Homo sapiens: one gene and its partner. The protein of the gene in region 2 purifies or fractionates together with the protein of the main gene of each other region. This does not show direct contact. Each region holds a gene or a part of one and is shown on either strand. Other genes may lie near its edges.

Region 1 (3,500 bases), on a different chromosome or scaffold from region 2:
AAACACATCCTATCTATATCACCATAGCAACAGCTATGGACTTTTCCCTCTCTCAGATGTGTTTTGAGCAGGATCAGAGATTCCAGAGGCTGAGAGCTAGCAAGGTCAAGGTGTTTCTATCTTGCTGTCAGAGGGAGCAGCAAGTGGGTCAGGTTGCACAGCTGCTCACCCATTCTTTGCTTAATGCTATCTAGTGAGAGCTATTTCATAATCCCCTTCTGGAATAAGCTTCAAATATAATCCACATTATGTGGTATTATCAATATACATCCCTCAATAGACTTTACACATCTGTGGGCAGAAGCTGCACTCTGGCCCATGCCTAGCTCGGAGCCCACCACATGGCAGAAGCACAAGAGCATGTGAAGAGTGGATGAAATTAACAGGAGGAACTGGCTATAGATCTTGCATGAAGTGGCTGGTACAATTCTCCGTGTACCCTTCTGCCCCCTTGAAAAGAAGAACTTAAGGAAGGATTTTTAAATGAACTTGTCTAATGTATCCCAAATCAGGAAGATTCTTCTTGTCCAGCCCCCACTACTGCAATGGAATCTAAGGCATGTTTCTTTTCAAATATTATTTTTTCCCTGGCTAATGTATTTTCTTCTTTTCATAAATATCCTACTTTATACTGGACATTAATCTAACCATTTAGACATGATTAGCAAGCTAAGGGTCTTACTTATTAAAAACAGTTCATTTTTCCTTCTTAAAGAAATGGAGACATTTGAATCCCTGAATGTGCTCATTTATCACCAATCCCCAACAAGGAATCCAGGAGTTCTCTGTGTAGGACATGAGTAATTTTTATAAAAATGCAGTTGCTGACTATGTCATACATCCATGCAGCTTTATAAAACAAAGCAAATGATTACCATCAATTACAATAACCTCACTAGACAAGACTGCAATTAATCTATAGCTCTTCAGATAACGACTGTTGCACTGTGCCAAGGAAAATGCCTGGCATTAATTGACTTATCACGATCAGCAGTGATAGATAGGGCAGATGGCAATGTGATCATTCACTGTCAACAAAATAAACACATGCTTTCTTGCTAGAAGTGTCTACTTGGGTCCTCTCAAAGGATAGCCAAAAATAGAGGCCAAAGGTGGCTTTGAAGGTAGCACAAAATAAAAATTAAGTTAACCAGATTCGCGCAATCTACCCACATAACAAACCTGCATGTGTACACTTTAATCTATAATAAAAGTTGAAATTCATTTTTTAAAAAGTTAACCTTCAGGGTGAGATATGTTGACTTTTACTGAGGCTAATCCTCAGTAGAATACAATTGAAGGAAATTTCTATAAGAAAATCATGGATTGGTGCAGTGGCTCACGCCTGTAATCTCAGCACTTCGGGAGGCCGAGGTGGGCAGATCACTTGAGGTCAGGAATTCAAGACCAGCCTGGCCAACATAGTGAAACCTCACCTGTACTGAAAAAAATTAGCCAGGTGTGGTGGTGCACACCTGTAATCCCAGCTACTAGAGAGGCTGAGGTAGGAGAATCGCTTGAACCCAGGAGGTGGAGGTTGCAGTGAACCGAGATCATGGCACTGCACTTCAGCCTGGGTGACACAGCGAGACTCCATCTCAAAAAAAAAAAAAAAATTATGGATTGTATAGAATTTCAGCATCAGAAGATACATTAAAACTGACAGTTTCCCCTGCTCATTCGAATGTGAGTCACCTTTATGGAGTCACCAAATTCTGTTCAGTGCTTAATAACTCCAGTAATGGGGCTGAGTGCAGTGGATCACACCTATAATCCTAGCACTTTGTGGGGGGGCCAAGACAAAAGAATTGATTGAGCCCAGGAGTTAGAGGTTACAGTGAACTGTGATGGTGCTACCACTGTACTTCAGCCTGGGTAACAGAGTAAGACCCTTTCTCTCTAAATAAATAAATAAATAAATAAAATAATTCCAGTAATATGAAGTCACAATTTTCAGAGGCAAACTCATTTCATCACTGTATCGTTTTCATCGTTAGAACACATATGCAGCTGAATTCCATCTTTTTGTAGCTACCACCCATTGGCCATAGGTGTCTTCCCTTATGCTACACAGAAGATGCCAAACTCTTCTTGCTTGCTGAAATCCGTAAATGGGATCTCAAAAGTCAACTGCTTATCGCACTACTTTGCATATAGCATTGTTTCGGGGACTCTGAAATTCTGGTCTCTTGCACCTAAACCCATACCAGTTCGTCTATAGACCCCTGACATTGAGAGGCTTGGAAAGAAATGTGATACGATGACTGCATCTACCCAGGGCAAGGTAGATTATACCTATGCTGAGGCCAGTGCTCAAGCCTACATTGGAGCAGTGGATGTGTGTGTGTGACCACCCTACTTGGGAAGCTGTTCTCCAAGTCTCATTAGTCTAGATAGCATCCCAGCCTTGCCATTTCCAGGGGACAATTACCAATGTGTGTGCCTTCCCCCCTTTTTAGCAGTGTGATTTTGTTGATTAAGTCCCCTTTGTTTAGAAAACTGGGATAATTCAGGCGGAGTTTCACCTAAAATTGTCACAGTGGTCGCTAACCAAAATCTCTTGGGGAAAGTTTTACAAATGTACAAACCTGGATCCTATATCCTGAGACTGATTCAGTTGGTTTTGGGAAGGACTGAGAGGAAAATATTTTGACAAGGCTTCCCAGTTCATTGTGATTTGCAACCCTGCTTACATGCTTTCTTCACTCATTGCTTTCTTCACTGGGAACACATAATAATGTACCATTGTGGAAGTGCTTCACAAACCTAATCGTCAGACTCTCCTGGGAACTTTTAAAATGCAAATTCTTTGGTGCACCTGATACCTGTGGTCTGGTGTAGGTCTAGGAAAATTCATACACTAAGAGATCAAATTACTATATGTTTCCCTTAAGGATTTTGGAAGCACTCATTTACTCTAAAATTGTGGTTCACGTATAAGTTACAAAGCACCCTTATCATATACTGAAGAAACAAGTGTCACTAAAGAATAATACAATGTAAAGATTTTAGCCTAGTAAACATCTACATTTTATCAATTATTCATTTAACAAATATTTCTACTCTGAAGCAGTGTTGTGATAGGTGCTGGAATATGACAGAATATGGGGGAGAAAAAGAAATAACAGCAAACAAAAAAATGAGCAAGTAAGTCAACAGATAAAATAATTACAAACCTTAAAATAACTTAAGAGGAAGAATTCATCTAATTTTGAATATTCTCTAATTCAGACCGGCAGTACCCAGTTATGCTCAAATTGTGACTTTCTGTCCTGCTTTCATTACATTTCTTGTTGTACTCTAGTTCAGAATCTGCAACTTGGGAGCCTGGCATTACAATGCCTTTGGCAGACATCCCTAATCAATCCTAGTATTTTTTTTCCCTACAGATCCAGGAGGGAGACCCATACTACAGCTCAACCCTATTGTTTATAGAGTCATGATTAACAGATCACAGATAAAATGCTAGATGAAATCATGCAGCTTCTCTAGCACACACT
Region 2 (4,123 bases):
AAACGACTCTTTTGCCTCAGCCTCCCAAGTAGCTGGGATTGCAGGCGCCTGCCACCACGCCTGGCTAATTTTTTGTATTTTTAGTAGAGACGGGGTTTCACCATGTTGGCCAGGCTGGTCTCGAACTCCTGACCTGAGGTAATCCGCCCGCCTCGGCCTCCCAAAGTGTTGGGATTACAGGCGTGAGCCACCGCGCCCGGTCGGAGAACAGGGACTATCTTTGTAACTCCAATGCCAAATTGGCATCATGTCTGGCACATAGTAGGTGGTGAATTCAGGTTTAATGAATGACTAATAGACTTAGATATATGTAGGTTGAAAAGAAGGAGCCAGTGGTGAGAAAGAGATTAAACATACAGAAAGGAGATTTGGAATGTCATTGAAACAGTGTCTTAAGGTTTGCCAAAGAGGATGGGATTCAGATCACATGTGGAGTCATTAGCTGTAAAAATGAGCAAGTGATATGTGTACGTTTCAGACTGGCATGGAAATGTGAGAAGACAAAGGAATTGGTACTAAGGGCCATAGCTGCTTCTTCCTCTTCTTTTTTCCCTGTAAAGAAGAGTGGTGGTGCGGAGAGTAGGGAGGCAAAAGGAAGAGGAACAGAGTCTTTAGGATAATGGCAAAGACTTGGCATGAATATTTTGTGGAATGAAAAGGAACCTTGATCACAAAAAGATAAAGGAACTGCCAAGCGTTGATAACAACCTCAGCTGAAATTGGAAACTGTAGTGAGTGACTCGGAGAGGTCGAGTGACATATTTCTTTCTTCTAGCCAGAGGCGGACTCCAGATTTTCGAACCTGTGGGGATTTTTAAAAGATTGATATTGGCTTGGGAGCTTTTTTGGGTTGGGGGCTTGCTGTGCAGATGTGTTACAGAAAGGCGCTCAATGGAAGGAAATTCGTCTTAGAAAGAAGTAAGGGATATGTCTCAGAGAATGAGATGTTGCTGTGGGTATTTAAAATGATAGGCTGTGAATAGGTAAGGAAAGAAGGTGCTAGGCTATGGTATCTCTCCATCCCTTCAACACTCCACTTAAGTTTGTACCACGGCGGGGCGGAGGCAGGGAGGACCACGCTCTCCCGGTGTGGCGTGGCTATACCAACTCTCATAAAATCTCATAAAAGGTGACGGAGCTAGCGTACAAGAGGTCGTCTTTAGTGGAGAGGCCTGAGGTCTCCGCAGTGACGGGGGTGGCAGCGCGACCCCTTAGTCTTCAACTACAGGCCAGTCCCAGGTGCCCCAAAGGGGCTAGAATCTAAGGAGGAGTCTCCCCTCCCCCTAGAAGCGGGAGATAGCCTGGCCCGGAAGCTTCTCTGCTGACCCGGAAGCAGAGCTGTGCAGCTGAGGCGCCGCCGTGGAGCCGCCTTGGAGCCACCGCCCCCTCGCCGCTTCGCCGCTGCGTTGGGGAACCTGGACCGCGGCGGCGCCGGGTTTCCCTCATGATCCCGGGCGGGTGGCGGCGGCGGCAGAGGCGGCGGGAGGATGACCTCTTACCGGGAGCGGAGTGCCGACCTGGCCCGTTTCTACACTGTCACCGAGCCCCAGCGACACCCGAGGGGCTACACAGTATATAAGGTCACCGCCCGGGTGAGTGCCGGTGTCGGGCTGGGGTAGAGCTTGGATTGGGACCTGAGGATCTGGGGTGGGGACCCTGATGTGAGGGTACCTGACTCTGGCTCAGAGCCGAGGGTGGGACTGGGTGCTGCTCCTACTGGCGGGACTTGGGTGTCGGAGGTTGGGATTTTTAGAGTAGTGGCTGAGTGTGATATGCCCAGGGCTTCACTGTAGTAGGTCGTGGTAGAGTCCTCTTTCTGGGGGTGGGGCAGTCAGTGGTTGATGGTTTTAAATTGATGACTCAGTTCCCATCCCGTTTGGACTTTCTCTTCTGAGTTCGCAATTTGCAGAAGTGGTTTTGCTTGCTCCAGGAAGATAATGCAGATTAAAAAGTGTTAATTTATGTATTGTTTGGCTTATGTAATATAAGTTGTTTTTTCTCTTGACCTTTATCAGGTTTGCTGTGAGAAAGACAGATTCTTGGGACAGATGTCAGTGTTAGGCCACCAACCTAGGAACTGTGGATCCGGGCTTTGTCAAACCTTTGAGTTTTTCATGTTTTTCAGTAGGAGACGTGAAAAAAATCTGCTGAGGGTGGCTTGTGTGAGCTACCATGAGGGCACATTTTAAAGTTGGGAGGCTCCTTTACATCAACTAACTGGTCCAATTTTTAGTACCCACTTTATGTTTCATTGCTTTTGCCTTGAGTTTTAAAGAGAGTCTGCATCTTCTAGGAAAGTAAGAATAAATCAAAATTAAATAAGTATATATGTATGTGACGTATGTGTGCATGAATATATGTGTATAGTAGGCATTTTATGCACATCACCCAATTTAATTCTCATTTTAATGAGGAAGAAATAGATTAAAGCAAGTTTAGTAACTTGCCCAACTTTACATTGCAAGGCAGTAGCAGATCTGTCTGGGATCTGAAACCAGTTTTGCCTAACTCCAAGTTATATAAAATGTTAATAATTAACTTTATCAATTTTTAAAGAAGAGAGGTACAGATTAAGTAACAGTAGTTCAATATACATTTGGAGGATGTAAAGCAGGCCTTCAGAATAATTTTTTTTTTTTTGAGACGGAGTTTCGCTCTTGTTGCCCAGGCTGGAGTGCAATGGCATGATCTCTGCTCACCGCAACCTCTGCCTCCTGAGTTCAAGCGATTCTCCTACCTCAGCCTCCCGAGTAGCTGGGATTACAGGCATGTGCTACCATGCCCTGATAATTTTTTGTATTTTTAGTAGAGATGGGGTTTCTGCATGTTGCTCAGGCTCATTTCGAAGTCCTGACCTCAGTTGATCCGCCTGCCTCGGCCTCCCAAAGTGCTGGGATTACAGGCATGAGCCACCACACCCAGCCTGAGAAGAATCTTAAAGGTTAAATAGATCAGTTTGGGGCATGGGAGTGGCACGTGATGTATGGAAATGGTGCACAATTCAGATAAATGTGAGAAGGAGGGATAGATGAACATGTCTGTATAAAGATAATGAGAAGACCTGACCTGCTATTGCCGATTGCTGTTCGGAGAATAGAGGGATGTTTGTTGCTCCCTGCTTGCACTTAAGGTTGTTACATGGGTGGAATGTTAGTTTCAGGTTGTGTAAGAAATTTTGTGAGAGTGAGGGGCCCTTATTATACCACTCTTGAAACCTTTCTAGTCATTGGGCCCTTTGAAAATCTAGGCTTAGTTTCCTAACACATAGTGTATGGAATCAGAACAGTTTTCAACATACGTAATGTTTCTCTCACAGCATCCTACTTATCCGTTAATTTAACAGGAAAGTTATATTGTATTAATTTAGTTGCATGTCTGTGTCTCTTAGTGGATTTAGAGCAGTTCTCTATCATTGGCATTTGTTTCTGCTTATATCAAATAATAGATAAAAGAACATGCATGTGCATGGCACACAGTGCCTGAAAAACATTGTTGAATGTTTTCCTCTTCATTGTACGGAGCACACCCAATAAATGTTTAGATCCAGGCACTAAATACTGAGGGACATAAGGCTGAATAAAGCAGGGATCTTTATTCCTTTCAAGGATACTCATAGTAGAAGAGAGTTTAGTATACTTAAGTGTGATATAACACAGGAAGTTCCAGCAGACACTACAGAAAAGGGCTGTGGGAAGACAGATTGCTTCTGGATCAAGAGATTGGGGAATATGTACCAATCAAGATAGTTGAAAGAGGGGAAGAATCCAGAAAAGGAGAGGGTATGAAAAGGTAGACAGTTGAAGGGGTAGAGTCCATAAAGACCTGGAGGTATGAATGTGTGTGGAACTGGAATTGGAAGCACTGAGTATAATTATTTGTATTGTTACTTTACAAAAGGAAAGGTTAACCAAATTCAGAATTTTTTTTTTTTTTTTCCAAGGCGTAGTCTCGCTCTCTTGCCCAGGCTGGAGTGCAGTGGCGCTATCTCAGCTTACAGTAACCTCGCCTCCTGGGTTCAAGTGATTCTCCTGTCTCAGCCACTCAAGTAGCTGGGATTACAGGCGCCCTCCACCATACCCGGCTAATTTGTCTATTTTTTGTAGAGACGAGGTTTCGCCTTGTT

Evidence for each region. The genes of interacting proteins can lie anywhere in the genome.
Region 1: the proteins of RPS6KC1 (region 2) and CA10 purify together in Homo sapiens (co-immunoprecipitation; one large-scale study listed by IntAct). This does not show direct contact.

Annotation. Positions count from the first base shown.
Region 1 is NC_000017.11:51,742,715-51,746,214, forward strand, and holds part of CA10 (carbonic anhydrase-related protein 10 precursor), read right to left. Parts: intron 1-3,500. UniProt on the Homo sapiens protein: Does not have a catalytic activity.
Region 2 is NC_000001.11:213,049,918-213,054,040, forward strand, and holds the start of RPS6KC1 (ribosomal protein S6 kinase delta-1), read left to right. Parts: upstream 1-1,323; 5' UTR 1,324-1,487; coding exon 1,488-1,592; intron 1,593-4,123. UniProt on the Homo sapiens protein: May be involved in transmitting sphingosine-1 phosphate (SPP)-mediated signaling into the cell. Plays a role in the recruitment of PRDX3 to early endosomes.